Homo sapiens: one gene and its partners. The protein of the gene in region 1 interacts with the protein of each later gene in a pairwise test. Each region holds a gene or a part of one and is shown in the gene's direction. Other genes may lie near its edges. The genes, in order: NAPB, TFEC, KCNN3 and STX19.

Region 1 (8,052 bases):
TTTTTTTTTTTTGTATTTTTAGTAGAGACGGGGTTTCACTGTGTTGGCCAGGCTGGTCTCGAATGCCTGACCTCGTGATCCACCTGCCTTGGCCTCCCAAAGTGCTGGGATTACAGACGTGAGCCAGCACGCCCAGCCTCATTGATCTTTTAATGAAATAAAATATCTGAAAGAGCTTTAACCATTAATGTACCATGCAAGTGTGATTTATACTTTGAAGACTGTTATTTCCAGTAATACTTGCTCCAGGAAAGCTTGCAGGAAGAAGAGTACTTAGAATTTTAGGAGTTTAGTAATATTGTATAATTACTGAAGCCAGAAAACAGACGTAGTGTTCCTGTGTCAGTAGGACAATTAAGATTCTGTATCAATTTTAGATGTTTAGAATCCTACCTTATAGATGGCATGTATCATCACCTTTCTAGACTGGAATACATGTTATTCCACCCTGCCCCTGCCTTCTTAGCTATAGAATGTCACCATTTTCATTCCTAAAGGTCTGCATGTAATCCTTTATTTAAAACGCAGAGTAATCCATCTCTATGTCAGACTCCAGAATTAATGTAATACAAAATTAATAAAACACACATACTGACTTGAATATCATCAGAGCTCATATATTTAAGAGCTGACTAGCTGGTGCTTTAAAGAGGATAAGCCATCTGTTTTCAGGTTGTGGCAGTCATTAAAAGCTGCTTGGCATATTGCAGATATTTCACATCACAGACATTCTGAATGCTCTATCTGCAGATTAAAGCCTGTCATGAGTTCTCTAGTGTTTACCACTCACAGTGGTTTTGTGGCAATACTGTATTCTTAGTAGTATTCTATAGCTTTTGTTTCTTGCTTTCAGTAAAATTAGATGAAAATATGCATATGTATTTATGAGAACATGTCAGTCAAATATTTCTTCTCTGTGTAAGGCACAAATCCTCTGCCTTATCTGCTTGATAGGTAAGGTATCAATATTCCTTTCCCATCCCCACCTTCCTCCCCAGGAAAAGAGCTGACAAGGGATGCAAACATTGCAGGAAACCACTGTTGTGGTGGTTTGTGTTTCTGCTTAATTGCCCGTTAAGCAGTAATGTGCTTTTGTAGTTGTGGAATTAAAACTTTTTCTCAAGTTTGTAGTATAGTACGTTTAGTAAAACTACTTCCAAAGGAGTTGTCTTGTCCTTTAGTTTGTTGCCAGGGATGAGCTATGGAATTTTGTAGTTAATTTCAAATTCCAGTTTATAATGTTAATGAACTACTGGTATGATTTTAAATCGGCCTGAGTCTGACATTAAGATAGTTTTGAATTGGAAAAGCCTCTTATAATACTATCCCCTCCATCTTGTTGCTATGAGACCCGGTTGGGAATAACCTGCACAATGCACATAGAAGAAAGTGCTTAAGACTGACAGTGGAGGCCAGGTGCAGTGGCTCACGCCTGTAATCCCAGCACTCTGGGAGGCCGAGGCGGGTGGATCACTTGAGGTCAGGAGTTTGAGACCAGCCTAGCCAACATGATGAAACCCCGTCTCTACTAAAAATACAAAAATTAGCCTGGCGTGGTGGCGGGCGCCTGTAATACCAGCTACTTGGTAGGCTGAGGCAGGAGAATCACTTGAACCTTGGAGGTGGAGGTTGTAGTGAGCTGAGATTGTGCCACTGCACTCCAGCCTGGGCCCCCGAGCGAGACTCCGTCTCAAAAAAAAAAAAAAAAAAGAATGCCAGTGGAAAGATGTTCTTTATGGTTAATGCTGTCTTCCTTTGCCTTTCAGTGTTTAGTCTGAGTTTACACAAGAGCTACAAATTTGGCAATGTCAATGTAAATTTAATGAAAGGCCCCATTGGGTTATCTTGAAATAATTATGAATCTATAATTTGTTGGTTGTTTGTGAAAATTGTGAATATTTCTTAAGCATTGTAGACTGTAAATTATCAGTATTCTTCACTTGTGTTTATTTCAACAAAGATTGCTTTTAAGTTTGGCCAAAATATGGTGGGGCCATGTGATAACATAGGTGAAGCATTTAGGTTTTCCTCAGTTACAATTCTTGTTCAAATGCAGATTGAACTTTTAAAAAAATTATTAGGCTCAGGTTTACTGACAGAGACAGGTGATACAGTATAAGAAATATATACGTATATTTGTGTATCTTTCTCAAAAGAAATCGATTATAAATTGAACAATTATTTTTATAAATTATATAATATACGTAAGAAATATAATTATATTATTATTCATGGGGAGACCAGGTAGAGGCTCAAGTTCTCTCATTTACTATTTTGGTGACTATAGTCAAGTAAATCATACTCAGAACTTGTTTTTTTTAGTTTTCAGATGGGCAGAGAGACAGAATCTGTTTTTCACGATTGTTAAGGATTGAATGAGGTCAGAATGCTTATTCAGTTGCACAGAGCTATATAACTTTATTATAATTGTTTGGTTTTCTGATTTTAGGTTGTTACAGCTTGGTATCAAATGATAAACTGTTACCAGACTGGCCTTTTTCTTGTTGCATTTTTGCAGTTTTCTCCACATATTCTTTCATTCTTGTGAGCTCTGTGAGGTGCAGTTACTCTGGAGAGAGGGAGGGCCAGTAATCATATGTGGCTCCTTGGAAGTCTGCCTGTTTTGTTGCTGTGGCTAACACCTCACCCAGCCTGAGGCATGCGTTAGGCACGTGGTAAATATTGGTGGAGAGAATGAATGTATTAATGCTAATACAAATGCTGATGTTTTTTCTTTTATTCTTACCTAGTTTTCAAGAGCAAAGCTATACCAAGTAAAGGAGAGTTTAAGTCGCTTTCTTCCGTTTTATTTATGTATTTATTTTTTTGAGACGAGCTCTCACTCTGTTGCCTAGGCTGGAAGGCAGTGGCGAGATATCTGCTCACTTCAACCTTGACCTCCTGAGCTCAAGAGATCCTCCCACCTCAGCCTCCCAAGTAGCTAGGACTACAGGCATGCACTACCATGCCTGACTAATTTTGTATTTTTTGTAGAGACAGGGTCTTGCTATGTTGCCCAGGCTTGTCTCCAACTCCGGGACTCAAGCGATCTGCTCTGCTGACCTCAGCCTCCCAAAGTGCTGCGATTACAGGTGTTAGCCACTGTACTAGGCATTTTATTTAAATATTTGCTTATTATGAACATTGTAGCTGTACACGGTAGAAAAGTACAAGGAGTACAGAGAGTTTTCTTTTTTTTTGAAATGGAGTCTTGCTCTGTTGCCCAGGCTGGAGTGCAGTGGCATGATCTTGGCTCACTGCAACCTCTGCCTCCTGGGTTCAAGTGATTCTGCTGCCTCAGTCTCCTGAGTAGCTTGGATTACAGATGGGTGCCACCACACCCAGCTAATTTTTGTATTTTTAGTAGAGACAGGGTTTCACCATGTTGGCCAGGCTGGTCTTGAACTTCTGACCTCATGATCCGTCCACCTCGGCCTCCCAAAGTGCTGGAATTACAGGCATGAGCCACCGTGCCCAGCGCAGAGAGTTTTCAGTTGAAAAGTAAAGTTCTCTGAGTCTTCTTTTTACGTAATCTCACTCCCAAGAAGCAACCATTTTTAACTTTCTCATTAGTTTTTCTGATGGTTACCACCATATTTCTAAATAATTTTAGAGCACTTCTACTTCCTGATATCTTGATTTTCAGACAGTATCTGTTGATTTTGCTAAAAATGATGAAAAATTTATTATAACTTACATGGTCTTACATTTTCCCCTTTACCTCCTCATTTTACTTAGTTATGTCTCAATCTCTATTACCTTTTATATATAAACAGCATATTTAAATCTTAATTCATGTATGAATTAATGCTGAATAATTAAGCTAATCAAAATATTATACTTAAAATTTTTTTAATATATTTTTCTATTTTTGTGAGTTATGGAGTCAAAGAGAATATATTGTCCAAATTGTGATATTTTTGAGATACTAATAAAATGGGTACAAGTCAAGCATATCTATGCAATGAGGACACAGAATCACCCTAGTTACAGACTTCATATACTCTTCTTAGATTTTCACATTGTGTTTATCTGATTGGTTATAAAATCAGTAAAGCTTTTGTACCTTCAAAGAATTTTCAGTGACTAATAAAGTTCACAGTAAGGAAACTTGGAAGTAGAGTTTCAGAATGTTAACTATTTCTGTATTTAAGTGGAACTTATAAGTAATAACAAAATCTAATAAGTCAATACTTCCTTGAATTAAGGTATATTTTTTCATGGTGAGGACTTGTCTGTCAATTCCAGTTTTAGTCCGTGTATTCATTAGGGATTAGTGTTGTATTTTGAAGGCCTTTTTGAATATCTGCGGAGATAAACATTTTTCTCCTTAAGAGTTATTATATGTTAATTAGTAAATATGAGGCCTCGTATTGTACTGTCCTCGCACTCCTGGAGTAAACCTCTCAGGATTATAATATATTTTTAAATGTAGATTCCATTTTTATTTTTATTTATTTGTTTATTTTTTTGCGACAGGGTCTCACTTTGTTGACCAGGCTGGAGTGCAGTGATGTGCTCATTACTCACTGCAACCTCCGCCTCCCAGGCTTAAGTGATCCTCCCACCTCAGCCTCCTCAGCAGCTGGGATTACAGGCACAGGCCACCATGCCCAGCTAATTTTTGTATTTTTATTAGATATGGGGTTTCACCATATTGGCTAGGCTGGTTTCAAACTCCTGGGCTCAAATGATCTGCCTGGTTGGTCTCCCACAGGGCTGGGATTACAGGCATGAGCCACTGTGCCTGGCCTAGATTCTGTTTTTACATACATGATTTAGGATTGTTTTATCTACAATTCATTTGTATATAGCTTTACTTTATCAGCTTGAAGTATTGCTGTTACAGGTGCCTCCTAAAAATAATGTGGATGTTTTTCTTTTTTTTTTTTTGGACTCTGGTCTTTGAAGATTTAAGAATATACCACAGTGAAACCATTGGGGCTTTTGATGGGTATTTCTTTGATAACTTTCTTGTTTTTGTCTCTGGAGTTTGTAATGTTTAAATTTTCTATCTCTACTGAGGTCAATTTTGGTAAATTGTGTTTTCCTAGGAAATAATTCATTTTATCTAAGTTTTAAAAAATGTATTTGCATTGTGCATAGTAGTCTTTTCTGACTTTTAAAAATGTTCTGTTTTAGTAATTTTCTTCTGTCACTTTATTTTTGTGTTTGTGTTTTTCCCCTTTTTTCCTTGATTCTTTTTCTCTAAACAACCAATATTTTGATTGATTTGTTCTACTGGTTTTGTGTTTTCTGTCTTACTGACTTATACTTTTATCTTTATTGCTTTCTTTGGCTTCTTTTGTTTTTCCCTCTGGTTCATTTTTCTAGGGAGGTGTTTATTCACTGTTTTCATTGCTTTATTTGTATGGATTAAAATATTCATGGCTATACATTTTTTTCTTAAAACTGCTTCAGTTGTATTTTATAGATCCTGTTACATAATGTTTTTATCTTAGTTTGTTTCCCCTTTGTTGCAAGAGGCTTTTATTGTAAGGGTTTTATTCCAGGTAGAAAGAATGGCCTTTCTTTGTATATTATTACTTAAACTTTTTTTTTTTCATTATGATCAGAGAACTTACTGAGATTTTCGTTGCCACTTAATATATTGTTGGTGTTCATGAATGGTCCAGGTACACTTTACTTAAAATTTTTTTTTCGACACGGAATCTTGCTGTGTTTCCCAGGATGGTCTCGAACTCCTGGCCTAAGCAATCCTCCTGCTTTGGCCTCCCAAAGAGTGCTGGGATCATAGGCATGAGCCACCTGCACCCAGCACCCATGTACACTTTATTTTTTTGGAGACAGAGTCTCACGCTGTTGCCCAGGCTGGAGTACAGTGGTGCGGCTCACTGCAACCTCCACCTCCCAGGTTCAAGCGATTCTCCTGCCTCAGCCTCCCCAGTAGCTAGGAATACAGGCACACGCCACCACACCTGGCTAATTTTTGTATATTTAGTAGAGACACGGTTTCACCGTGTTGGCCAGGCTGGTCTCAAACTCCTGACCTCAAACGATCCAATTGCCTTGGCCTCCCAAAGTGCTGGGATTGTAATCTCCCATGTATACTTTAGAAGGTGGATATTTTCTTATCAAATTTTGATAGAGATCCCTCTTGTCTAGTTATTGATTATATTGTCTCTGTCTTTCATGTCTGTATTTTCTGTTCACTTGATCTGTTTTGGGGGGCATATTAATATCTGCTTTCTTATAAGTGTATTTCTATCTTTTTTAACGTTTGCAATTTCTGCTTTATAAAGGGGGCTACTGTGTTTTTGGTACATAGATTTTCACAACTAATATTATTATGAATTATATTTTTAGCATTATGAAGTGAACTTCTTTATTTCATTTAAAGCCTTTGAGCCCAAATTCTACTTTGTTTCATTGCAGGGTAGCAATCTCTGTTTTCTTACTGCTTGTGTTTGCATTCCTTAGGACTGTATTATGTAAGAGGATCATACATGCTGTCTGTTACCTTGTGCCCTCTGCTGCCAGTTGTGGCCATGTGACTGACTTTGACTGATGAAGTATGAGTGGAAGGCACTTCTGCCATGGCTTTTACCCTTCTGTAAGAAATTAAGAAGAGTATATATACCGGATAAGTGCTACATTCCAGAGTAGAGAATGATGACACTTGGAGAAAGAGGCAGCAGTCACAGCCAGTCTGCAGTAAACAAGTCAAGTGACTGAGAGAAGCCTTTGGGAGATGTCAGGGTTATTTGCTGTTATGACAGTTCTAATGAGAGCTGCTTGATTTGTTTGGTATACTTTTGACCATCTCTTTATTTTAAGCCTTTCGGAATAGGTATTTTAGTTGTGTTTCTTGTACTGAGCACAAAGTTGGGTTTTGTTTTTTGAGCAGATCTGAAAATGACGAGTATATGATTGGTTCTTAACTGTCATACTACTATATTTACTGTATATTATATTTTCATTGCTATTTGTCTTCATGTCTCTTTTTTTATTTAGGAAGGTTTGTAATTTTGTTCTACTGGTTACCTTTATGCTATAAATGTTTTTAAATATCCTTAGCTCCTTTTCCTTACTTAGGCGCCTATTATTTTGTTCACTCCAGAAAACTCCTGTTACCTATGTGCTTCTCAGTGAGCACGTTCTACATCTCTTGTTCTCTAATATCCCTTTTTTTTTAAGCTGTTTGTACTTTGTCAGACATAGAAGTGTTTCCCTATTATTTTTCTACCCTTGTCCTTACATTTTGTCTTAGATCTACAATACAACATATGCAGTGACACCACCAGTCATTTCAGCTATGTTTCCTAGTCATCTCTTAGTTATCCCTTGGGTCCTGGCTTACACTGGGGGTTGCATGCTGGATGGCCTGGTTGTATAATCCTTGGCTCACACTTTTTTCCCCCTTGAGTTTCTGGTAAAGCATTGTTCCACTGTTGTTTTGCTCCGTATATTGCTGTTGAAGTCTTAGCCTGATTTTCTTAGTTTTATAAGTAACTTTGAGTTTTTATGTGGAAGCCCAGAAATGTTCTTCATTTATAAAATCTAGTCATCTTACTAGGATATGTTTCACAGTAGACTATTCTGGGTCAGTTTTCCAAGTACATGTAGGCCTGTTCAGTATTTCGATTCATGCCTTTTGTTTCCAGAAAATTTTCTCAGATTGTGAAAATGGGTTTTTTCTTCCCCTCTTTAGGGACTCTCATTACATGGATATTGGCTCTTTGCCCATCCTGTATTACTTTTACTTAGATCCTTTTCTCTTCATTTTTGTTCTCTTGGCTGTTTTCATAGTTTTCCTTATTGTCAGTAGAATCTGCTTTCCCCTTAGGTATGCTATAACAGAGATTTTATTTCTGAGATCATTTTGTCTTTTTATTTCTATCCTTCTAGAATTTGAAACAAGAGTTCATCATCTTATTTTTTTGTGTATTTCCATGATGAGTTTTTAAATTTCTAGCTTATGATGTACTTTCATATCTGTTTAATAATATTTCAGTCATATGGAATTGTTTTCCTGTGCCTTGTGATTGTTTTAGGGAACGTATTTTAATTCTTGTTTCTTTTTTGTTTTGG
Region 2 (8,523 bases), on another chromosome or scaffold:
AGTCACATATTTTTCTGAGCCACATTTAAAAATTTTTATGTTTAAATCTTTAAGGTATTTGAAATTAAATTCTTGGTAATCAGAGGTACGGATCTTTCTCTTTTCCATTCTCTTTCTCTCTCTCTCTCAACAAATTATTAGATATTTGTCCTAAAAGTGTTTATTAAGAAATATATTTATTTCATTCTGATGTGAAATACAACCTTCAACAATGTGCTAAATTTCTAAAAATGCAGAAGGTTTTCACTTTCTGTCTATTATATATTAGTAGTAAGCTGTTTTAATTAGCATAGTCTTATCGTGTGTTTAATATTTCATTTTTCAAATCCTTCTTTACTTTTTTAATTTTCAAAATATTTTGGCTATGCTTTTTCATTTATTCTTCTTGGTAAATATTAACAAATGTACCCAATGGAATAAAACTATAATTTTGGTGGATATTATATTGACTTTGCAACATTTGAAGAGAATAAAAATGTTAACATTAATGCTTATAAAAGAAATATGTGTAAAGTGTCCTCAGTTCATACACATACACACAAGAGCCCTTAATTCTGTATCTTTCAAGGAAAGTACAGACAGGAGGTCACGTATGATCTGGACTTTGAAGAGAGGAGCGTCCTGCAGGGGGACATTGTAACCTAAAGAAAGTGAGAATGTATTATGGTAAAGCTTGAGATTCAGACTCAGATTTAGTTGAGAAGACATTTATGAGTGATCCTAGAGAATTTGGAGTCAAAATTTAGGCAGTAGGGAATTTTTTTATGATTATAAATAAAGGGAATAAAATTTAGAAAAATCACACATTTAATCATTTAGTGATTAGTGCTTAGGATATGTCCATCAGCAAGGAGATGGGGATCCTGGTCTTCGTGAAGCTGTCTTTCCAATGAATGATTGAAATTAAACAGAAAACCTGGTAGGTCATGGGGTCTATGGAAAAAAGGACAAGCAGAGTAGGGTAAGGAGAATAAACAGTTTCAGTGGGGGAAGATGGGGGAGACAAGAGAATGGTGGAATTTCAGACAAGTCAGGAAAAACTTCATTCAGAAGTTGATATTCCACAAAGAGTTAAAGGAGGTGTGTAGGCCTAGGACCTTAGACACCATTTTAAGGAATTGGAATGACTTAAGTTCTTCCTCTGAGTATGAGGAATGCTTTGACAAAGTTTTGAATAGAAAAGCTACATGATCAGCTTTGAGTTTTAAGAGAACCACTCTGGTTGCTGTGTGTGTGTGTGTGTGTGTGTGTGTATGCATGCCTGTGCGTGTTAGTGTGTGTGTAACAGATAGAAGGAGGGAGAGCAGGTGTAAGGTCTTTGCGGCAATCCAGGTGAGAGATGAGGTTAGCTTTGACTCAGATAATAGCAATGGAAGTTGGATGAGGCAGATAAATTCCAGGTGGGTTTGAAGGTGAGCTCACAGGAGTTACTGATGGACACGTTGAAGGGTATAGAGAAAGAGAGGAGTGAGCTGGAGGGATGAAGATGGTGTTAATCTAGTTGGGGAAGGCTGCAAGTGGTGCATGGTTGGAAGAGAAGATTTTGGTTGTCTGTAACACAGGAAAATGCAAACATAGAGTAGGTTGTTGGATATATGAGTATGGAATTCAAGAGAGATATCAGGCCTGGAAGTATGACCATGAGAGTCATTAGCATATAGATGATATAAAGTCATGAAAGTACATGATATAGCCAAGGTAATGAATATAGCTAGGGTAGGGGAAAGAACAGGCTGAGACTTAGGACATTTCACTATAGAGAAGAGAGGAAACAGCAAAGGAGACTGAGAAGAAATACTCAGTGATATAGGTGAAAATTTGAGTCTGTAGTGTCCTGAAAACCCATAAAAAGGGCATTAAAGGCAAAGAGAATGATCACGCATTCACTGCTGATAGGGAAAGTAAGTTGGAAGTGAGAACTGACCATTTGATTGGCAAGACAGAGGTCATTGCTAGTCCTGACAAGGTCAGTTATGGTGCTCTGGTGGAGCACAAAGCCTTACTGGAAGGAGCTTAAGAAAGAATGGGAAAAGAGGAATTGAAGACAGTGAGTATTGATAGCTCTTTTGAGTTTTTCAAAAAGGGCACAAAGAAATGGAGTAACATCTGGTGGGAGAAGTAGGGTTCAGAGAAGATTATTTGTTTTCCTTTAGGTGGGAGAAAGAACACTTGCTTGTATTCTAAAAGGAATGATCTGGTTGAGTCAATGTTTGGCACTGTAGATTACAGGTGAGAGGAGGGCATTGCTAGGTGGTGGTCTTGGGTAGTGGGAGGGATGGGATCTGGTATAAATGGAGAGAGCTATTCTCTGCATAAGATGACATATAATTCATCTATGATAACAAATGGGAGTATTTGGGTACTGGTACAGGGAGTGGATAGACATGGAGGATGGAGAATGGCAGGAATAAAGAAATTGACAGAGGCAACTGAAAAAAGGAAGAAAATGGGTAAAACTCACATGGCATTTATTACATGCCTGGCATTATTTAAACAATTTACTTCTATTATTTATTTAATCCTCATACTAGCCCTGCTCTAGGTACTATTAGTTTCTCTGTTTTACAGTTGAGGAGACTGAGGCAAAGAGAAGTGAAGTATTTTAACCAAGGTGCCATAGCTAGAAAGAGGTAGAGCTGGGAGTTGAGACCAAATCAGTCTGACTCTTAACCAAATTCCTGCAGCCAAGCACTTTGACACATTTCTTCTTTGTGAGAAGAATTTCAGGCATAGAATGGCCAGAACTTGACCATTTAAATGCGAGGAGTGAGGATACATCCTCAGAAACAAAGATTTTTTTTTTTTTTGATGAATCATGAGAAGATGTCTTGCCCTTTTCTTTGTCACGTGATTAATTAACTGAAATGCATCTTGCAGGGAGTCTGTAAACATCAATCAGGTAAAGACAGAAGGTAAGATTTAAATTATATCAGTTATTTATAAGATCTCCCTCATTCTTGTCATAAGGGAGCAGATAATTTGTGGTAAAATTATTTTGTGGCAAGTAGTATACTATACTAAAAGTTTGGTTTATAAACTATTTTTGAAATGAAAACTATATTTTATTAGAAACGACATGCATGATTTTTAAAAATTTTTAACTATTATTTTAAGTTCAGTGATACATGTGCAGGTTTGTTACATAGGTAAACTTGTGTCATGGGGGTTTGCTGTACAGATTATTTTGTCACCCAGATATTAAGCCTAGTGCCCATTAATTATTTTTCCTGATCCTCTCACTCCTCCAGCCTTCCACCCTCTGATAGGCCCCAGTGTGTGTTGTTCCCCTCTATGTGTCCTTGTGTTCTCATCATTTAGCTCCCACTTATAAGAGAGAAGATGCAATATTTGGTTTTCTGTTCCTGCATTAATTTCCTAAGGATAATGGCCTCCAGCTCCATCCATGTTCCTGCAAAGGACATGATCTCATTCTTTTTTATGACTGTATAGTATTCTGTGATGTATATGTACCACATTTTCTTTATCCAGTCTACCATTGATGGGCATTTAGGTTGATTCCATGTCTTTCCTCCGTGAATAGTGCTGCAGTGAACATACGTGTGCATGTGTCTTTATAATAGATTGATTTATATTCCTTTGGGCATATACCTAGTAATGGGATTGCCAGGTTGAATGGTATTTCTGGTTTTAGATAGAGGAATTGCCACACTTTATATAAAATATAGAAGCAATAGATAAAAATGTAAAAAAAGTAACTACCCGATTATGCCACCATTAAGAAATAACTGATATTAACAAATAGATGCTTATTCTTTCAGGTGTGAATATGTATCTATGTGCATGTTTCCAACTTTTGAAGCCCACATAGTAATACAGCTTTAAAATTTACCTTCTGAAGCTCGCAAATGTATTTCATACAAATACATTAAATATGTTAAACATGTTGTATCATACAAATGTATTAAACTCTAATTCAATCTAAAGTATTTTCTAATGAGTTAAAATCCCAAATATTTTCTTTTCTCACAATGTTTCTAATATCAATGTTGTTTATTTCTAATACTAACCTAAATAAATTGATTTTACACTTAATTATTTACTATTTCCATTCACCTTAGGAGATTTAGATGTATGATAAAACAACCAGAAAAGGTAAGGTGACTCAAAAATGTGCTATTGATAGTGACAGAACAATTTTTTTACTTAATAGCTTTGAAGTTCTTACAGAAGATATAGTGCTGAAATATTTTCATATAATCTCCACTTCTTGACAAACACAAATGTCAATTTAATTGCACAATTTTTAGATCACAAAGGCAAGAGAAATCTGAATGTAACCTTCACATTAAACTTCAGTAGCTTGCATAAATGCCTTGCTTTGCATATATTTTTTAAAATATAGGTAAGACAAGAAAGTCATGTAACTGTTACAAGAATGAATTCAGATTTTCACAGTGTGAATTACAGGGTGGGAACAAAGTTGTACCTTTCCATTTTAAGTTCCTGAGATACCTAACACATGAAATGAGACCTCTTTTATCACATTGGTAAAGGCATGAGTATCCTATATTCATGTCCCTTAAAAATACAAATGAAATTGGGATGTAAATAATAATTATAAGACAAAGAAATCTCATAAGCTGAACTGTGTATTTTTAATCTACATGGGAAGATAAAATATTCTTGGACAAGATAAAAATTATCCTGGGGTCACTTTAGGAGTAAAATCATATGTAAGAAAAATGTAATTATAGAAAATATGGAAAATGCAATGGCCTTAAAAACTCAAAATCTATTAATGCTCTAAAGAAATGTGCAATTCCTAAAATTGAAAAAAAAATGATGCAGGTCAATTTGTTGAAGAAATGTTCATTGTGAAACATAACATGTTGCAATAAATGTAGGATCTCAGTCCATTATGATAACAACCATGTACTGCTTGTGTATATTCTGGTAAGAATTGTTAATTATGGAGCCACAATGGGACCAACAAGAGCTTTTACTGTGGCCACAGTATTGTGGAGTAGTTTTCTAGGAGTGCTCTTTCTCAAATTAGTGGCATATTTCAGATAAAGAAAGGAAGTCGTCTTAACTTGAAACTGCTGTGTCATTTCTTCTTCCTTAACTGAAATTCCAACCAGGGTTCAGGAAATGCCCTAATGAGCCACTTCTCTTTTCTCTTTCCTCAACTAACTGGATTCCAACCAGCCCAAAGTATTCATTACTCACGGCTAGATCGTTTACTTTGGTTGTCCCTTCTGGCATGGTGCATATGTTATGGGAAGAGGGATTATAATTTGGTGCTGTTTGTAGAGATGACAACACTGATAAAATCCACTCATTGCTGGTAGGTAACTAAACCGGCAGGTTAATTTTCTGTACTTTAAACAAACTAGGAAGACAAACTAATCAATACTTGTTTTATTTTGATATGTGTGGCTTGCTTATAATTATAATTTCATCTTTTATGATAACTAGGTATCAGGATATCTGAGTAGTCAAGTTGTGATTTGCTATTATTTGGGGAAAATATGTCTGAAACTCTATTAATGTCTTATTTCAACCAAGATGTGGAAATCACTGTTTTAGTTCATGGTAACCAAAGTTATTTATTTTTCAAGTTTAATATTTTCAGATATTTACTAAATTGGAACATGATTTAACATTTTGTTGCCTCTTATATATGTTATTTTATGAGTAAATATTAATTTTTGTTTACATTTGAGCAATATCTATTTTATTGGCTTTAAAGGTAAGAAAATATGAGCTCTATTTATAGCAAAATAGTACCAGATAGTATATTAGCATATATTCTTATTCCAGGACTAAAAATTAATTCCTATTTTTATGTAGATGTGGATCTAAATAGCTTGTGTAGAAGATGTCAAGTATCCCAATGCAACAACCTTTTTTTGAGATGGAGTCTCACCCTGTCACCCAGGCTGGAGTGCAATGGCGTGATCTCTGCTCACTGCAACGTCTGCCTCCCGGGTTGAAGTGATTCTCCTGCCTCAGCCTTCCAAGTAGCTGGGATTACAGGCATGCGCCACCACACCTGGCTAATTTTTTTTTTTTGTATCTTTAGTAGAGACGCAGTTTCACCATGTTGGCCAGGCTTGTCTTGAACTCCTGACCTCATGATCTGCCTGCCTTGGCCTCCCAGCAATTACTTTTTTAAAGTAATAGTTTTCAATTGTAATAATCAAAAGAGTTGTAGTAGAAACTTTAAGATTAAGATACATATGAAGATATTTATACACATGTACATACATATATATATGCTGTATATATACATTTGCTTATATAAATTACAATAGATATAATTTCATATATATTTATATAAGTTATAACTCCATACTTTCAATATTGTCTTAGAATATTTCACTGGGAATATGCATTTTAAGGGAAGGAGAAACCTGAGGTAATTTCAAATTCATTTTGGATAGTTTATAAGAAACTTCATTTAACTATAAGAGTGTAAAATAACCTTCATGATTCTTTCGTATTCAGAAAGTGTGTCAGCACAGCAAAGTGAAATGGTACGCAGTTTATTATCAGCATTATTCGGACAATTCTGCTTCACTTCTATTTTAGATGAATCTGAGTGTAGCAGTGCACTTGCAAGTATCTTTTAAATTTATGTTAAATATTTTACTTTTGGATGGAAGCTACTTTAAGTAGGCTAAACTTTAAGATCTCCTTTTAAGAAGTTTTTTTAAACTTTTTTTTTTAGCTCTAAAACAAATGGAATACATATAATTTTCATGTCTATTTCCTTGGTTTGGGTTATTATTACTTTTTTTTTAAGTTTTCAATTTTATTCCAAAACAGTAGAATAGTTCAATGTAGTACATTTTGTTGAACTGAAACTTGGAGCTCATGTCAAAAATGAAACAAGCTGAAAAATGTTTCTTAAAAGTCAGTTTAATTTTAACGACTGCGGCATAAGGTTTGTTGTAAGTTCTAGATAGCCCAAAATAATTACAAGACATTTAAATAAGGTACAAATTTGTAGCATAGTGAAATTTTCAGAAATACTACTAACTTATATAGTGGAAGTAAAAATAGTTTTGAAAACAGTGGTTTGAATAGTCAGAAAGGAGAAATAAGGAAAGAAGAAACTGAAAGAAACAAAATATTCTTACACAATGGTTTTAGATAAACTAGTGAAATATAACTCAAATGGAATCATTATGGCTGTTGATATTTTCCATAATAGTGGAAAAGCAATCACTTAATCTTTTATAAATCGTTTTACAAATAAAGCTATCAGATGTCAATTAGACATTCCAGATTCTTCATGGAGATGAAAGCTCTTACAGTAAAAAATACTGGATTATGATATGGAGTGATAGCAGATCCAGAAAGGTGGTGTTTACAAATAGGTTGCTATTTTGAACTATTTGTCAACAAAATAAAACACATGCATAGTGCAAAGCATGGTTCCTGCACAGATTTTACTGGGGGTGTTTACTAAGAAGAGTCTGGGAGGCATAGAGCAGTAGGAATGACAATCATCCCCAAAGTCATAACCTACGAAGAGAGAGGTTAACAGTAGTCTTGTAGGAAAAGAAAAACAGCAAGAAACTAATTTACGCAAATATTCCTTATTATATAGAATTGTGAATGCCAGCTAATTAGAGAAATCTGTAGAATTGTGTTGTGGGTGTTTGGAGATTTATAAAAATTTGGTGGACAATACTTTGCCTATGAGAGCTTAGCTGATGATAGATGGTTTTGTGATTCCATTAAATTGTATTTATTGGAGCATAAAAAGTCTTGGCCATTTACACACCAATAAATAAAGAAGAACAGGAGAATATTAGAGGTAGTTTATGTTAAATGTTAGGAGAATTGGGAGAATTCGTATAATTGAAAAAGTGAAATAGTAAGATAGAGATGTAGAATCTCCTCAGGTGACCAGGTTTAAGAATGAATTGGTCAAGGCGAGAAAGCCCTTGTTCCCAGTTTTTCAGTTGCTCTCAGGAAATAGAGGGAAGTTGAGCCTAATGATCTTAAAGACCCGTTAGGTTTCTGTTTCTCTTTTCTCTTTTCAGGTTTGAAAGAATAGGTGAGAATTTGAAAATCGATCTAAAAAAAGGAATTGAAAGGAGAGTCTAGGACGTAGAGGTGGAGTTTTAATAAGGATTCTCATGCCTCCTAATGTTCATTCCTAAGAGTTACCATGGAAGAGTATTTTCAAATTGTCTCTCTTCTTGAAACATGCTTTCTCAGTTTGCCACTGAGCCAGAGACTTCTTTTATACCTCCCTTTATTCCCTTCTTTATTCTTTCTTGCACAAACATGTTTCCAATGCTCAGCTTCCTTAGATGTATTTCCACCCAAGTAAGAATGTGAGCCTGCACATTTAAAAAATTTTTTTGAGACAGGGTCTCACTCTGTCACCCAGGCTTCAGTGTAGTGGCTTGATCAGGACCCACTGCAGCCTCGACCTCCCGGGCTCAAAAGAGCCTCCCGCCTCAACCCCCCAGAGTAGCTGGTACTACAGGCATGCACCATAATATCCAGCTAATTTCTTTTTATTTTTTTGTATTTTTTTGT
Region 3 (8,064 bases), on another chromosome or scaffold:
ATAAATCTTTTTTTTTTTTTGTGATGGAGTCTTGCTCTGTTGCCTAGGCTGGAGTGCAGTGGTATGGTCTTGGCTCATTGCAACCTCCGCCTCCTGGGTTCAAGCAATTCTCCTGCCTCAGCCTCCTGAGTAGCTGGGATTACAGGCGCTCGCCACCACGCCCAGCTAATTTTTGTATGTTTTTTTTTAGTAGAGACGGGGTTTCACCATGTTGGCCAGGCTGGTCTTGAACTCTTGACCTTGTGATCGGCCTCCCAAAGTGCTGGGATTACAGGCGTGAGCCACCAGGTCCGACCAATAAATCTTTAATGAGTAATTCATAGCCAGGCACCGTGATCAGTGTTGGGGATACTGAAAAAATTTAGAGCCCTTTTATGCAGGTCACAGCCTGTGGGAAAGACAGCCATATAAACCATGAACCACTACTTTTCTTAAACCTATTTTCAGTTAGTTCTACCTTTTGGGGATAACAAGGTCTACAGACAATAGATTATGGAATTTTAAAGCTGAGTGATCTTAGAAATCATCTTTTTTATCTCACTATTTTACGGATGAGGAAATTGTGTTTATGATTTGTTGTGAAAAGTACTGTGACTTTCCCTTACTTGCCTTCAAATGACCTCATCCAGGTTTCAAGTTTAGTCAGTTCGATTAATCTTTACTAAGCATCTATTGTAAGCGGCTCTTCGGAAGAGCTGCAGTACAGCTGTGAAGAAGACATCATCCCTGCCCTCAAGGAGGTCATGGTCTATGGGCAAAGGACACATATGGAGATAACAGCTGTGTTGCTCCGTAGAGGCCCTGTTAGCACAGGGCACTGAAAATACAGAAGGAGCTCCTGATTTGGGTTTGGGGAGTTCAGGGGAAGCTTCTCAGAAAGAAGACCTTTGAGCCATGTCTTGAAAGGCAAAGAGAAATGTGTTAGATGGAAATCTGGGGGAAGGGCATGCCAGGCAGAGGGCATGGAGATGTGAAATAGCATGACTTACGGGAGAGCTACAATAGGTCGGTGATGCTGGGGCTTAAGGAGGAAGGTGGTGAGGAATGAGCCTGGAAAGGAGGGCAGAAACCGAGTGCCAGTACACTTGATGTGGAGCCAGTATGGCCAAAGGCCACCCCTACTTTCCTTGTCTGCTCTTCCTGTCTCTCTGAGGTAAGAAGCTCCTCCACACCCCCGTTTGCAGACTAAAGAGGCCTAATTTGTCAGCCTGTCATCTTAGGGCAGCATAAGGAGTTGCTCCCCATTCCTTAAGGTGTGGCTTAAGTCCCACCACCTCCAGGAAGCCACCCTTGACAACCCTCTGCCTTCAATGAACTCTACTGTCTCGCCCACACTTTGGGATCTGCATTGCTGTTTTTTGTCACCCCATGTAAGTATAACTTGTCTCTACAGTGAGACTTTAAGTTCCTGAGGGTTGGGTGTGTGAGTCACATGGTAATGTTTAATAAACACCAGTAAGAATGAATCCTTTAAATTTGGGTTTCAGGACATATGGCGAGGGTTTGTCAAAAGGTTGGACAGGCCTGGGTTTGATTCCAGCTTTATGGCTAGTTACTAATTAGTAACTCTGGGCAAGTTTTAAAATCTTTTTAATGCCTCAGTTTTTTCATCTATAAAATGGGTGATGGCCTCAACTCACAGGCTGCTGTGAAGACATGGTTGTGGCTGGGGGCCAAGGGAAGCATTGGGGGCTTTTCAACAGTGGGGCTTTGGACAGGCAGCAACAGCGGGAAGACGCCTGAGTGCGGTGCATCTGGAGGGCAACGTGGAAAACCTGACATGATCAGGCCCTGTGGTTGAGAGCTCCCAGCTGATTCACTAACCTGTCGGTGCTTGACAGTTACAAAGTACTTGGCCGGTGCTCTCATTGGACTAAGGAAATTGAAGGCCTGAGAACATAAGCAACTGGTCACAAAGTGGGCGAGTGGCAAAGCTTGTGCTGGTGAGAAGGAAGGCAGAGGGTGGAGCGCACAGCCTGTATGTAATGATATAGGAGGCAGTAATATGCTGATAAATGTTGAACAGCCAGGAAAGATTTAGCAAGCGGCTTCCAGGAAAACATAAGCTCTAATTTACAGTGTTAGCCGATTTCTGTGGTGTAAATACTCTGATCATGGCTGATTTCAAGCTGCTAATGTGACATCACTGTGGAGTTAGGAAGAGATGTGTATGGATGATCAGAAGGTCATCTTGCCTGTGGTCACACAGCCATCCCTGCAGCAGAGAACGGTTCCAGCCTGGGCAGTCTGACACTTGAGCCCAAGCTCTAAACATGACATTGTCCTCCTCCTCCTGTTCATGACAGGATAGCTGTAACAAGGGGCATGAGCTGGCTCCGTGGCATCAGCTGTCAAGTTCCAGCCCATTTCCAGATAACCACTGATCTTTGGTGCTGGCATAGTTAGGGCTCTACCCAAGCTATCTTTCATCCTTATCCATGATGGCAGGACGTGCTCTGATAGGCCCCATTTGGATCCCATTGGCACAGCCAGAAGAACTGGAGGCAAGAGGCTGGCCAGAAAGGTTAGCTGAGGCAGAAGGCAGCTCATGGGGGTAGAGTGAGCATAGGAATACCCAGGCCTGGAGCCTGTTCTCCAAAATTGATTTTTCACAGCCCAGAAAACTGTATCCAACACTAAAAAACCAACACGAACAGCACATTTTTGCTACTAACAACATATTCATGATAATTTATTAGAGGATCATTAAACCTAAGTATGCGATCTGGAGCCTTGAACCAAGCAGGTGGCTCTGTCTGCGGATGGAGGAGAGGGAGGGAAATCAAGAATACAGAAGGGAAGGGCAGGGAAGGCAGAGGATGCTGAAGGGGTTGGGGGTGGGTTCTAGAGGGCTTGGTCATGGGAAAACACATGAGACCCCAGGCTTGCATCTGAGGCCTGGTACTGTGACTTCTAGTGTGTGTGTGTGTGTGTGTGTGTGTGTGTGTGTGTGTGTGTGTGTGTGTGTTGGCAGGGGTAGGGGAAATGATTATGTCATTGATATCAAGATTATTATTTTATATATATATATATTTAGAGACAGGGTAACACTCTGTCGCCCAGGTTGAAGTGCAGTGGCGCTATCACAGCTCACTGCAGCCTCAAACTCTTGGGCTCAAGCAGTCCTCCTCCCTCAGCCTCCTGGGTAGCTGGACTACAGGCACTCGCCACCATGTCCAGCTAATTTAAAAAATTTTGTAGAGTCTGGGTCTTGCTATGTTGTCCAGGCTGGTCTCGAACTCCTGACTTCAATCAACCCTCCTGCCTTGGGCTCCCAAAGTGCTGGGATTATAGGCATGAGCCACCATGCCTGGCCAGAATCAAGATTATTGTGCAAGAGTAATTGTCACGTATCTGGGGTCGTGGCTTGTATTACAAGTAATATTTAGCTCTCAATCATCAGGGTTAATGGGGGATTGGAGAGGTGAGAACTGATATACAGAGGGGACTCTGGGCTCATTTTGGGGGGGCTCTGTCCCTCCCTGATCTGGACACTTGCTGCTTACCAGTCAGGAATGCTGTTTTAGGAGCTTCCTATGTGTATATGTGTGCATGTGTGCATGCATGGGCTAGTGTGTGCACACAACCATGTACACATGTGCACATATGTCCACCTGCTTACATGTTTTCTGGATGTGTGTCTGTGTATGTGTGCATGGATCTCCTACCCTTTCCTCTTCCCATCGAGGGAGGGAGCTGGACAGAGGCCAAAGGGTGATGGGGAATCAAGAGCCAGAGAGGAAGAGGCCTGCCTTTTAAAACCCCAGGTGTTCTGGGGAATTCCCTCATGGTGACTTCCTTTCTGATTCCTAAGGCTGCTGTGGTTAGAAATGAAAATGAATTCAGCTCTGGTCCCATCCTTTGGAACCCCCTCTGCACACAGTGGGGGCTTAATAAATACTTGATGATGATGGTTCTGAACCTGGGAAGCCAGCAGCTGTTCCTAGTTCTGACTCTCAGAGCCCCATGGGGCAAATCAGGCAGGGAATGACCATGGGGGAATCTTCAGTCTTCCTGCCAGATCCCCCTGTGACTACACACCCAGCTGTTAGGGAAGGGGCTGGAGCCATGGTCCACTTCACACACCCTGCTTTGGAGAGGCCAGTTCTTCCTCAGCAGCTTCTCTTTTGTTTTCCCCAACTAACATTTGAACAATATTTATTGAACAACCACTTTGTACTGAATATCATAGTGGAAATGCATCCTGGGAGAAAGTATCTGATCTGTGGGGTCAGACTGACTAAGTTCAAATCCCAGCATCTTTAATTACAAGCGGGATGACATCTGACAAGTTACATATCTATGTTTGAGCGTTTGAGTGTTTTTTCCACTTTCCTTTCTCTCCTTCTTCTCCTTCTCCTTCTTCTTCTTCTTCTTCCAATTTTCATCTGTAAAAGGAGAGTGATGACATCATTTTTGTGGGGTTGATGTGAGGGTTGGAAATAACAGAGAGGACCCTGAACACGAGGCGTAGGCACTCAGTCAATGGTAGGTGAGTTTATCCACCGGGTGTTAGAAGGTGTGGATCCCCCCTGCTTCTGTGACCTTGACGTTGTTACTCAACACCTCTAAGCATCAGGCTTTGTAAATGAGACCATACTGCCCACCTCCTTGGGTGTTTGGAGACTGTATCCGGATAATATATGTGAAACAACCTATCGTAAACCCTGGTGGTTAATAAATGTTTGCCTTCCCCTCCGTCTGCCCCCTCATCAGGGTGCACACCTCCCCTCCTTCGGAGGCCCTCTGTCCCTCCTCCCCATCGCCCAGCGTGAGCGAACATCCCTTATCGCCGTGGGCTTAAGGGTTGTGGCCATACCTGTCAGAGGAAAGAGGACAGCGGCTCAGCTCCGGGGTGGGGGAGCAAAAACTACAGTTCCCAGTCCTCGCTGCGCCGCCACTGGGGCCGGAGCCCAGGACGCCAGGCCCCTCCTCTGGGGAGGAGCCTATGCGGGGGGCGGAGCTAGGAGGAGGTTGGAGAGTTAAGCCAAGCCAATGAGACCAGCTGCTAATAAGTGGGCTTGGCTTACAATGTAACAGTGGCAGGAGGAGGCGAGCGAAGCTATTGAGCCAGCGAGGAGTGAAGCTGAGCCTGGCCTCACACGCTCCTAGAGGACCACCTCCTGAGAGAGTTCTTTCACCCCCTCTTCTTTCTCCAAGCTCCCCTCCTGCTCTCCCTCCCTGCCCAATACAATGCATTCTTGAGTGGCAGCGTCTGGACTCCAGGCAGCCCCAGAGAACCGAAGCAAGCCAAAGAGAGGACTGGAGCCAAGATACTGGTGGGGGAGATTGGATGCCTGGCTTTCTTTGAGGACATCTTTGGAGCGAGGGTGGCTTTGGGGTGGGGGCTTGTGCTGCAGGGAATACAGCCAGGCCCCAAGATGGACACTTCTGGGCACTTCCATGACTCGGGGGTGGGGGACTTGGATGAAGACCCCAAGTGCCCCTGTCCATCCTCTGGGGATGAGCAGCAGCAGCAGCAGCAGCAGCAACAGCAGCAGCAGCCACCACCGCCAGCGCCACCAGCAGCCCCCCAGCAGCCCCTGGGACCCTCGCTGCAGCCTCAGCCTCCGCAGCTTCAGCAGCAGCAGCAGCAGCAGCAGCAGCAGCAGCAGCAGCAGCCACCGCATCCCCTGTCTCAGCTCGCCCAACTCCAGAGCCAGCCCGTCCACCCTGGCCTGCTGCACTCCTCTCCCACCGCTTTCAGGGCCCCCCCTTCGTCCAACTCCACCGCCATCCTCCACCCTTCCTCCAGGCAAGGCAGCCAGCTCAATCTCAATGACCACTTGCTTGGCCACTCTCCAAGTTCCACAGCTACAAGTGGGCCTGGCGGAGGCAGCCGGCACCGACAGGCCAGCCCCCTGGTGCACCGGCGGGACAGCAACCCCTTCACGGAGATCGCCATGAGCTCCTGCAAGTATAGCGGTGGGGTCATGAAGCCCCTCAGCCGCCTCAGCGCCTCCCGGAGGAACCTCATCGAGGCCGAGACTGAGGGCCAACCCCTCCAGCTTTTCAGCCCTAGCAACCCCCCGGAGATCGTCATCTCCTCCCGGGAGGACAACCATGCCCACCAGACCCTGCTCCATCACCCTAATGCCACCCACAACCACCAGCATGCCGGCACCACCGCCAGCAGCACCACCTTCCCCAAAGCCAACAAGCGGAAAAACCAAAACATTGGCTATAAGCTGGGACACAGGAGGGCCCTGTTTGAAAAGAGAAAGCGACTGAGTGACTATGCTCTGATTTTTGGGATGTTTGGAATTGTTGTTATGGTGATAGAGACCGAGCTCTCTTGGGGTTTGTACTCAAAGGTAGGGGCTGTGGTTTCTCTTTATACCTTGAACAAAAGGAATATGTAGGTAGCAAGAGAGGGATTGAGAGAGGGGGATTGTGAGAGAGAGAGATTGAGAGAGAGAGAGAGAGAGAGAGAGAGAGAGAGAGATTGAGAGATTGGGAGGGAGACTGGGAGAGAGAGGTGGTGGTGGTGGTGAGAGGCGCTTGCTCAGTTATATTCAACACTCTAACTTCCCGTGGTTTTCCTTCTTGATCCCGGGAGAATTCATTCCTAGCTTCCTCTGGGGGGTAGGGGACATCCCCACACACTGTGTCTAATTTGCAGACTCTCTGTTAGGGAGGATTCAATAATCCCTTCTGAGAAATCGCTTTTCCTCCTGGCTCACTCGTACTAAAGCATAACCCAGCAGCTTAACGCACCAATTAATTACACTCCGCCTTCATGTGTTTGCCAGTTCCTGCGACTTCCCCTTCTTTCCTCCCCTCCCTGCTCCACTCCATTTTCCTGAGGATAAAAAAGAAATAAATGTCTGGGTGGGGGGTGGGGATTCCGTACCATTGCCCAAGTCCCTTCTCTCCCTGTCTTCTCCATCTCTTCCCAAGTTTCTGTTTCCCTCCTCTTCTCAGAGAGTCTCGGGCAAAATAGAAAACCATCCATGACCTGGGTCTCCTGAGGGCATGGGGTAAAAATATAGGTGGAGGAAATCAGTGGTCCTTTCCCTCAGGAGAGAGGACTCAGAATAAACCTGCTGCTGCTTCGTAAACATCTCCTGATAAAAATGGCTACAGGTGTTACCTGGGCAGAGCAGCTGGGCGCCGCCTTGGAATCAGCTGGGGGAGCACCTCTCCTTGGGACGGGATGACAGGGCTTCCCAGGCGGTCCCCACAAGCCCGCGCCCCAGCTCAGCCCCAGTTCTCCCCTCCCACCTCAACTCCTCCTTGGGATAAATAAAGATGAGTGTGTGTGTGAGTGCGCGCCCGGATGGAGAACAGCAGGCACTGGCTTTAGCGGGGAGCTGGCCCCACTGCTCCAGCCTCTCAGTCCAGCCCCAAGACGGAGGAGGGGGTTTCCCTCCCAGAGGGAGTGGAGATGGAGGAAGGTGGGTTTCTGCCGATGCTCTGCTTGCCGGGGAGCTCTCCTGCTGTGGGCTGGAAGGCTTGGAGACCTGGGAATCGGTGGACAAGTGGCTCCACGATACCCCCACCCCCAATTTGTTGGTGTGTGTGTGTGTATGTGCGTAATGTTTGTACGTATGCATGCGCCTGCTTGTTGCTTGGGTTTTTCTATTTATTTGTCATTTGGGGCAGGGGGTGGCTTGGTGGGGGGGTGGCTGGGCGGGCTGGCCATCGGGTAGCTGGGAGGGGTTCAGCTGTTGGAGGTTTCAAATAGAGCTTGTTTCAGGCAGGGCACAGCTGCTGCGAGACTGTCACATTCCTTATTGAAATCCAGCCGCAAAAACCTAGGAGGTGCTGATCGGATTTCCCCCATTCCCAGCATCTCACTTTAATCGGTGATGGGCAGACTTTCCCGCCCTGGAAACGGGTGGGGCAGACCTGTCAGACGACCTGAATAGCCAGGACCAAGACTTCCAGGCAGAGGGTCCTCCAGCAACCCGGCTGCTCTCTCAGTGGGCTGCCCCAGCGGAGGGCAGCACCTGGAAGCCGCCTTAGTCAAAATAGCTCAAGGATGAGCGTCTCAGCGAGCAGAAGCGAGTGGGGTTTCCCTTGGAAGCGCAGCTCACTTAGTCATTCCCTGTAATGAGCCTC
Region 4 (8,052 bases), on another chromosome or scaffold:
CAGAATTTGATGTAATCGTAAGTTTAAAAAAGACAAATTTTAAAACAACATCACTAAATTTTAGAGTAAAAAAGCGAAGTTTTCTCCTGGCTCACACGGTGAAACCCCATCTCTACTAAAAATATAAAAAGTTAGTCGGGTGTGGTGGCGGGCGCCTGTAGTCCCAGCTACTCTGGAGGCTGAGGCAGGAGAATGGCGTGAACCCGGAAGGCGGAGCTTGCAGTGAGCCGAGATGGTGCCACTGCACTCCAGCCTGGGCGACAGAGAGAGACTCCGTCTCAAAAAAAAAAAAAAAAGAGAAGTTTTCAGGTGCCAGAAATGATGAGGAAACATACTTAAAGCCAAAGTGAAGAGTAGTAATTAAAGCTAATTACACTGGGCAAATACTTTACCTTAAAGCTGAGGTTTAGAGTTTGTTGCATTATAGGGAACTAAAACTGAGTTTCCTAGATGAAACAGTTAACTAGGAATAATACAACATAATCTGTATACAAAGACAGGAATAACTCTGTTGACTTGCCCAGGATTATAGCAGGAAGTGAGATATCCACTTAGGCTATAAAAATCACTAGAGAAAAATTAGGCCTACATAATACTACCTGGGCTACAAGGGGCAAACTCCATGGGGCGTTGGTAGTGACAATCAAAAAAATAGCCTCAATGTATCCATAATTGATCAGGACACTCAGAGCATTCTTGTATAACTCCCCAATGAAGCTAGGCTACTGACGAATTTCACTAAATACACTTGCCCACATTTAACAGAGTGGTCACCAGTCCGTGGCCACAGCAAACATAGGAATTTACTCCTAAGAAACTAGAAATAACCTAATAATGTAAAGGATCTTTCACATAAATATTCTCTAAATGTTCAAAAGAAATACAGGCATAGGATCCATAAACCAAGACAAACACAGTATAACCTTTATAGCTCACTTTAAACATCGTTTACATAATACGCATTGCCATGATGTATAACACTGAAAGGAAACCTGATTCTATTTCCATGTTTTGCCTTTAATATCAATAATGTATACAGATATTAAAAAAAGGATATTTTGTTTTTTGCTTGTAAATTCATTAAGATTAATAAAAAGGACATATTAATATATTTTAAAGGGCTCCTTAAAGTACCTTTTATTCAAATATAAAAGTGTGGTGCATGTTCAGGGAATGATATTACATGGATAAAAATCCAGGAAAAAAACAACCTTTATAGAGGTCAGACTCAAATATCCTGCTTTCCAAAATCAGTGGCAGTAAAATGCACCTTCTCAAAGGCACTTCACAGGAAAATTCACCTTCCCAGAGGCCTGTGTACACTGTGCTCCAATAGCAATTTGAAATAGTCTATTTCTTAAAAATTTTTAAACTATGATGCTTTAGAAAAAGGCTTTTGATTACTTTATTTCTAATTTTTTTAAAAAAGAGGCTGGGTGCACTAGCTCATGCCTATAATCCCAGCACTTTGGGAGGCGGAGGTGGGAAGATTGCTTGAGCCCAGGAGTTAGAGATCAGCCTGAGCAACACAGCAAGACCTCATCTTTACAAAAAATTTTAAAAAATCAGCCAAGCACAGTGGCATGCAACTGTAGTCCCAGCTACTCGGGAGGCTGAGGGAGAAGGATCACTTGAGCCTGGGAGGTAGAGGCTGCAGTGAGCCGCAATTGAGCCACTATACTCTAGCCTGGGTGATAGAGTGAGATCCTATCTCAAAAATAAAACAAAACAACACGCCCAAAAAAGGACAAAGATCTTTCCAGTCATAAAAACATTAGAGGGAGTTGTTTCAGGATTTGTTCCAAACCATGCAACCAAAGAGAAAGTTCAAGATGTTGTAGTTCTTGAGGAATGTGAAAATTAAAGATTGTTAAAAGCTACTGAACCATTGTATAAATATAGGACTTAATTTTTATGGATAGAAAATCAAAATCTGTTTTGTTTGATGCCACTTTCTCTTTCTCTCGCCTCTGAGCTTCTAACATTGTTACTCTTTCTTTTTCCCTATATTTACACGGGTGCAACCCAGTTTAAAAAATAATAATGTGGCAACTAGCACTTCAGCTATATATGCTGTATTTTTAAGAATTCATAGTCAAGGTGGAAGGATCCCTTGAGGCTAGGAGTTCAAGACCAGCCTGGACAAAAGAGCGAGATCCTTTCTCTATTAATTGATTAATTAATTAATTTTTAAAAAACAATTCATAGTGACAAGCTAGTACAAGAGAAGGAAACAGAAATTTGGTTAGATGACTATGAGTTGAAGCAGAAGAAAATATAAGAATATCAATCTCCATATAGTACCAAATATAAAATGCAATATTTCTTAGACTTTCTGTAAACATCAGTCTGTGAGATCCAAATTATTTTTCTTCTTTTATAGTGTAAAGTGATCAATTTGGTCTGATTATATTAAAGATCCTAATAAAGCTTCAAACAACAACATTATTTTAGATCCTATATGCTATATTATCTCCTGCTAAATTTTTTCTTTTAAATAGATATAGTATGTATATTAGTAACATAATACAGTATTTGATATAGATAAACATTATTTGTGTATATTTCACTAGGATAACCAATTTCTACTCAATAGACAATAGGGGAAAAAGAACAGATTTGCAATCAAGTAGATATGTCTAAACGTAGGATCTGCCACCTTTTAGTTGTGTGGCCTTAGGCAAGTCACTTTAAAATTCCCCTTATTTGGACGTTGCTTTTCTTGGACTGGACTGTTTCTTTAATTTTCTTAATGTCTGAAAGGCCATGAAAATAATACAAAGAAAATGGAGAAAATAAAGTTCTTAAAGAAATTATTTAAAAAAAAAGCAAGACCGTAAATACATGAGTTTCTAGGTTGAAAAGACCAACTATATGTTTACCAAATAAATGCATCAAGACCTACCCCAGATCACATTGTTGTGAAATTTCAGAACACCAGGAATATGAAAAAAAGGTCAAGAATTTCATGAAAGGAAATATAAAAACAGATCTACAAAATATCAGAAAACACAGGGCAGAATATTCAGAGGTAACAAAACTAGAAGATGTAGTAACAAAACTTTCAAAATTTTGAGGGAATATAATTTCCAACTGAAACTTATATCCACAGAAAATATAGTATTCAAGTATAGGACAGAATAAAAATATTTTCAGTAATGAAAATTATCATTGCATTTATGTTTTGAAAAGGAGCTATGGTACACTCCCAAATCAAGGAGATAAACCAAGAAAGGTGAGGAATTGGAAATCAAAAATAGAGAATATAAAAGAGGAAGAAAATTCTAACACAATCAGGTTACATTAGAGTTTCCAGGAAAGGAGCCTCAAAAGATGAATAAAATGAAATAAAAATATATATATTCTATATTTAAATATGTCAAGAGGATATGTTCAATTCACTTCAGTTTTAGAATGAATTAGTGATGTATGTACAAAATTAAGCAGGTGAAAAACTTTGGTAATTAATATTTTCTTAAAATTAAATGTTATATGTTTCTTGATCTATGTGGTAGTTACATGGATGTATTTACTTTGTGAAAAATCACCATAATATACATTTATGTTCTGGGGGACTTTCTGTATATATAAATATGTCAATAAGAAGTTTTCTTAAATATATTCATTTTCTATCTCTATCCATTGAAAAAACTTAGAAATAATTTAAAAAATTATTTGAGAAAGGAAATACAGCTACAGTACCTTAGGTGACTCACATATAAATAATATTTGGGTAGTCACAATAATGTAAACACAAAATATTGATTAACCAAAATTTGTGATATAACTGTATTAAAAGGGGGAAGGTGAGGGAAGAATGGGGGTGTGAGAGAAGATTAAATCCACATCTTCCATAGAAGAAATTCAATAAAATAACTAAAACCAAAAAAGCAGCCGGGTGCGGTGGCTCACACCTGTAATCCCAGCACTTTGGGAGGCTGAGGCGGGTGGATCACTTGAGGTTAGGAGTTCAAGACCAGCCTGGCCAACATGGTAAAACCCCATCTCTATTAAAAATACAAAAATTAGCTGTGCGTGGTGGCAGGCGCCTGTAATTCCAGCTACTCAGGAGGCTGAGGCAAGGAGAAATCACTTGAACCAGGGAGGAGGAGGTTGCAGTGAACTGAGATCACACCATTGCACTCCAGCCTGGGTGACAACAGCGAAACTCTGTCTCAAAAAAAATAAAATAAAATAAAACTGAAGAAGCAAAAATACCTACACATGCAAATTACCTAGAAACAGGAGTTTAGATGCAACATATAGCTAAGGAGCTGAAAATGACTGCCTTTATGACTGTCTTTAAGGAATGGAGAATTGGAAAGGGGATGTGGTACGGCAGGTAAGGGTCAGATATATATCTTTAGAAGCCTTGACATGACTTGACTTGTTAACCTGTGTACATGCATTATTAATTTGAGGGAAAAAATAACATTTTTAAAAAGCTTATTTAAAAAGCTTATGGCTATATTAAATGCGACATGGTATCTTCAACACTTTGGGGAATAATTTATTTTCAGCATCAATATAGTAATACTAGAAAGAGCTTATAGATTAGGGAGTCATAAATACCACTAAACCACAAAATGAACACTAGGAAGCTATACAAGATAAATTACTAAGCCAACCTACTTTAACATCAAATTTTCTCTATACTGAAAAGAAGACTAGTTCTTATCAGATGTATATAATAAAACATGGGTGATAATTCTGCTTTCACAAAGTTGCCACATGGTAAAAAGTTTCCACATTACTTCCCAATAGTTTTACATGTCTTTAAGTATCTATACCTGGATAAGCATCAAATATTTTATACAATATTTGGCCAGGCATGGTGGTTTGTACCTGTAATCCCAGCACTTTGGGAGGCTGAGGCGGGCAGATCACTTGAGGTCAGGAGTTCAAGATGAGCCTGGCCAACATGGTGAAACCTTGTCTCTACCAGAAATACAAAAATTATCTGGGCATGGTGATGGGCACCTGTAGTCTCAGGAACTCGGGAGGCTGACGCAGGAGAATCGCTTCGAACCCAGGAGGTGGAGATTGCAGTGAGCTGAGATCATGACACTGCACTCCAGCCTGGGTAACAGAGCGAGACCCTGTCTCAAAAAAAAAATTATATATATATATATATAATAATATTAAACACGAAAGACAAAAACAACTTTTTAACACCTAAAACTGGCAATTCTTTCTATAGTATCGTCTAATATTCCTCCTGACTAATCTTCCTTTCATAATTGTTCCAGGTTTAGTATCATTCATAGCTCATTTTTTTCCTTGGATCTTATAGAAACACTAGCTTTGGTTAGCTCTACTCTGAAGGTAGAGAAACTGTTCCTTGCCAGTAAAGTAGAATATAGACAATAAAAATATGCAGAGGAAGAGGCGTATGGAATCTCCTTCCAGCTTAGAAGTCCCCTATTTACATAAATTGTACTGACTGAACTTTTTTACCTTTACTATAGCAAATCAGTGGCAAAAACAAAAGATTACCGGCTATTTGAATTAAGTATTTAAAATAGGTGAAATAAATAGTAGAATGCTTTAAGTGCATTTCAGCAACAAAAACTTGCTCTTAAATGTTTCCCACCGGTACTTAAAATGCTCAGCAATATAGTCATGTGGCAATAAAGTAATACAGCAAATGTTTCCGAATAAACTTTTAATATCTATAAAACACCTTTTCCTGACACAAACAGATTTCAAGGTCTTATCCCTTGTGATCTGGCTCTTTTCCCAACCACTTAACTGACCTAATTGCCTCTTTTCAGAACTCACCCTAAATGATCTAACACCACTGAAAAACCTTCATAGCATAGTAAAGCTATGCTATGTCATAGTGAAGTTACTATGCTCTAGTATGCTATACTGTCGTATAAAGAGTTGAGTCCTTCAAACTATACTGCCAGAATCTGAATCTCAACTCTACCACTAGCTGACAACATGGTTCAATTACTAAAGCTGAGATCGTAATTTCATTATCTATAGAATAGAGATCATGACAATACTTGTTCTTATAAGAACATAAAACACACTTAGTGCCTGGCACATATTAAGAGCTCAAGTAAATCTAAGATATCAAGATCTCAACATAAGAACTCAAGTAAATATAAGACTCATCAAGGTGCTGGGAAAGAATAAAGACCCTCTACTTTCTCCTCTAAGTATTAACTCTATGAGGTACCAGAATGAATAAAAACCCTTGATCTCATGGAGTTAATACTGGGAGGAGAAAGTAGACAATTAAGTTAATATAAATAAGTAAAATACATGGTATGTTAAATAGTGAAAAATGCTAAGAAAAATAAAGCTGGGAAGGGTCAGAGAGTTGAAAGAAGGTATAGTTCAAAATAGGGTGACAAAGAACATCCTAACTCAGGAGTGACATTTCAGTAAGGACTGGGTTGGGGAAAAACGTCACATACTACATGGGAAAGAACACTTCAAATAGAAGAGAAGGCAAGTGCCAAGGCCCTAAAGCCAGATGGTGCCAGATTTGTGTGAGAACAGCAAGGACAGTGAGACTGAAGCAGAGAAAGGGAGAGTTGTAGGAGGTGAGGTCGGAGGGGTAACAGAAGGGGTGAAGTCATTGTGGAGCTTTGTAGGCTCTAGTTTTTCCTCTAAGAGATAATGCCAAAGGAGGATTTTAGGCACAGGAATGACATGGTCTGACCTACATTTTAACTCTGAATTCTGTGTTAAGAAAAGACCAGAGGTTTTGTGGTGGGGGCAGGATGGGGGGTAGTTGGTGCAAAAAGGAAACAAGGAGAACACTTAGGAGACTATCGTTAACAATCAAGATGAAAAATAACAGGGACTTGACCAGTTGCGGTGGCTCATGCCTGTAATCCCAGCACTTTGGGAAGCCAAGATGGGCGGATCATGAGGTCAAGAGTTCAAGACCAACCTGACCAATATGGTGAAACCCTATCTCTACTGAAAATACAAAAATTAGCCAGGCATGGTGGCATGTGCCTGTAGTCCCAGCTACTCGGGAGGCTGAGGCAGAAGAATCGATTGAACCTGGGAGATGGAGGGTGCAGTGAGCCAAGATTGTGCCACTGCACTCCAGCCTAGGCAACAGAGGGAGACTCTGTCTCAAAAATAAAAAATTAACAAAAATAACAGGGACTTGAACCAGGGAGATGGTAAGAGGTGGCTAGATCCAAATACATTTTGAAAGAGATGTTGACAAGATTTGCTGTGCTTGCATATGAAATGTAGAAAAAAAAAGTCAAGAATGACTTCCAGCCAGGCGCGGTGGCTCACAGCTGTAATCCCAGCACTTTGGGAGGCCGAAGAGGGCGGATCGCCTGAGATCAGGAGTTTGCGACCAGCCTGGCCAACATGGTGAAACCCTGTCGTTAATAAAAATACAAAAATTAGCTGGGCGTGGTGGCACATGCCTGTAGTCCCAGCCACTCGGGAGGCTGAGGCAGGAGAATTGCTTGAACCCGGACGGCGGAGGTTGCAGTGAGCCGAGACCACACCACTGCACTCCGGCCTAGGGGACAGAGTGAGACTCGGTCTCAAAAAACAAACAAAAAAAGACTTCTGAGTCTCTGGTCTGAGCAACTGGAAAAATAGAGTTGCCAGAAGAGAGATGGGGCAGTTTACGGGTTCACAGGAAGATTATGAGCTCATTTTGGATAGAGGCATTCAAATGCAGCTGTCAGGTAGGCAGTTTTTTAAGAGCAACCTAAACTGGAGATACAAATTTGGGTCATCAGCTTACAAACAGCATTTAATGCCATGAGACTAAAAAATGATGATGGATAAAAATGAGACTCAGTCTAAAATCTTCCAATATTTACAGGTGGGGGAGATAAGGAGTAGCCAGGAAAAAGAAAATAGTGATAAAGGAAGAGCCAAAAAGGTAAGAGAAAAAAAACAGGAGAAATACTTTTCTTCAAAGTGTCTCAAGAAATGATTGTGTTAAGTGCTGATGGGTTAAAATCATCAAGTCCTATTGCTTCTAGTTTCAAAAATATATCCTGATGGTTCCCATTTACTCCATCTCTATCATTAAAGTCTCTTCTGTGAACTACT

The links.
Region 2: the proteins of NAPB (region 1) and TFEC interact in binary tests that used the Homo sapiens proteins (3 or more experiments, as listed by UniProt).
Region 3: the proteins of NAPB (region 1) and KCNN3 interact in binary tests that used the Homo sapiens proteins (3 or more experiments, as listed by UniProt).
Region 4: the proteins of NAPB (region 1) and STX19 interact in binary tests that used the Homo sapiens proteins (3 or more experiments, as listed by UniProt).

What each region holds. Positions count from the first base shown.
Region 1 is NC_000020.11:23,410,742-23,418,793, reverse strand, and holds part of NAPB (beta-soluble NSF attachment protein), read left to right. Parts: intron 1-8,052. UniProt on the Homo sapiens protein: Required for vesicular transport between the endoplasmic reticulum and the Golgi apparatus.
Region 2 is NC_000007.14:116,027,418-116,035,940, reverse strand, and holds the start of TFEC (transcription factor EC), read left to right. Parts: upstream 1-5,177; 5' UTR 5,178-5,308; intron 5,309-8,523. UniProt on the Homo sapiens protein: Transcriptional regulator that acts as a repressor or an activator. Acts as a transcriptional repressor on minimal promoter containing element F (that includes an E-box sequence). Binds to element F in an E-box sequence-specific manner.
Region 3 is NC_000001.11:154,867,282-154,875,345, reverse strand, and holds the start of KCNN3 (small conductance calcium-activated potassium channel protein 3), read left to right. Parts: upstream 1-5,064; 5' UTR 5,065-5,381; coding exon 5,382-6,314; intron 6,315-7,275; exon of another isoform or gene 7,276-7,397; intron 7,398-8,064. UniProt on the Homo sapiens protein: Small conductance calcium-activated potassium channel that mediates the voltage-independent transmembrane transfer of potassium across the cell membrane through a constitutive interaction with calmodulin which binds the intracellular calcium allowing its opening.
Region 4 is NC_000003.12:94,018,266-94,026,317, reverse strand, and holds part of STX19 (syntaxin-19), read left to right. Parts: intron 1-7,819; exon of another isoform or gene 7,820-7,879; intron 7,880-8,052. UniProt on the Homo sapiens protein: Plays a role in endosomal trafficking of the epidermal growth factor receptor (EGFR).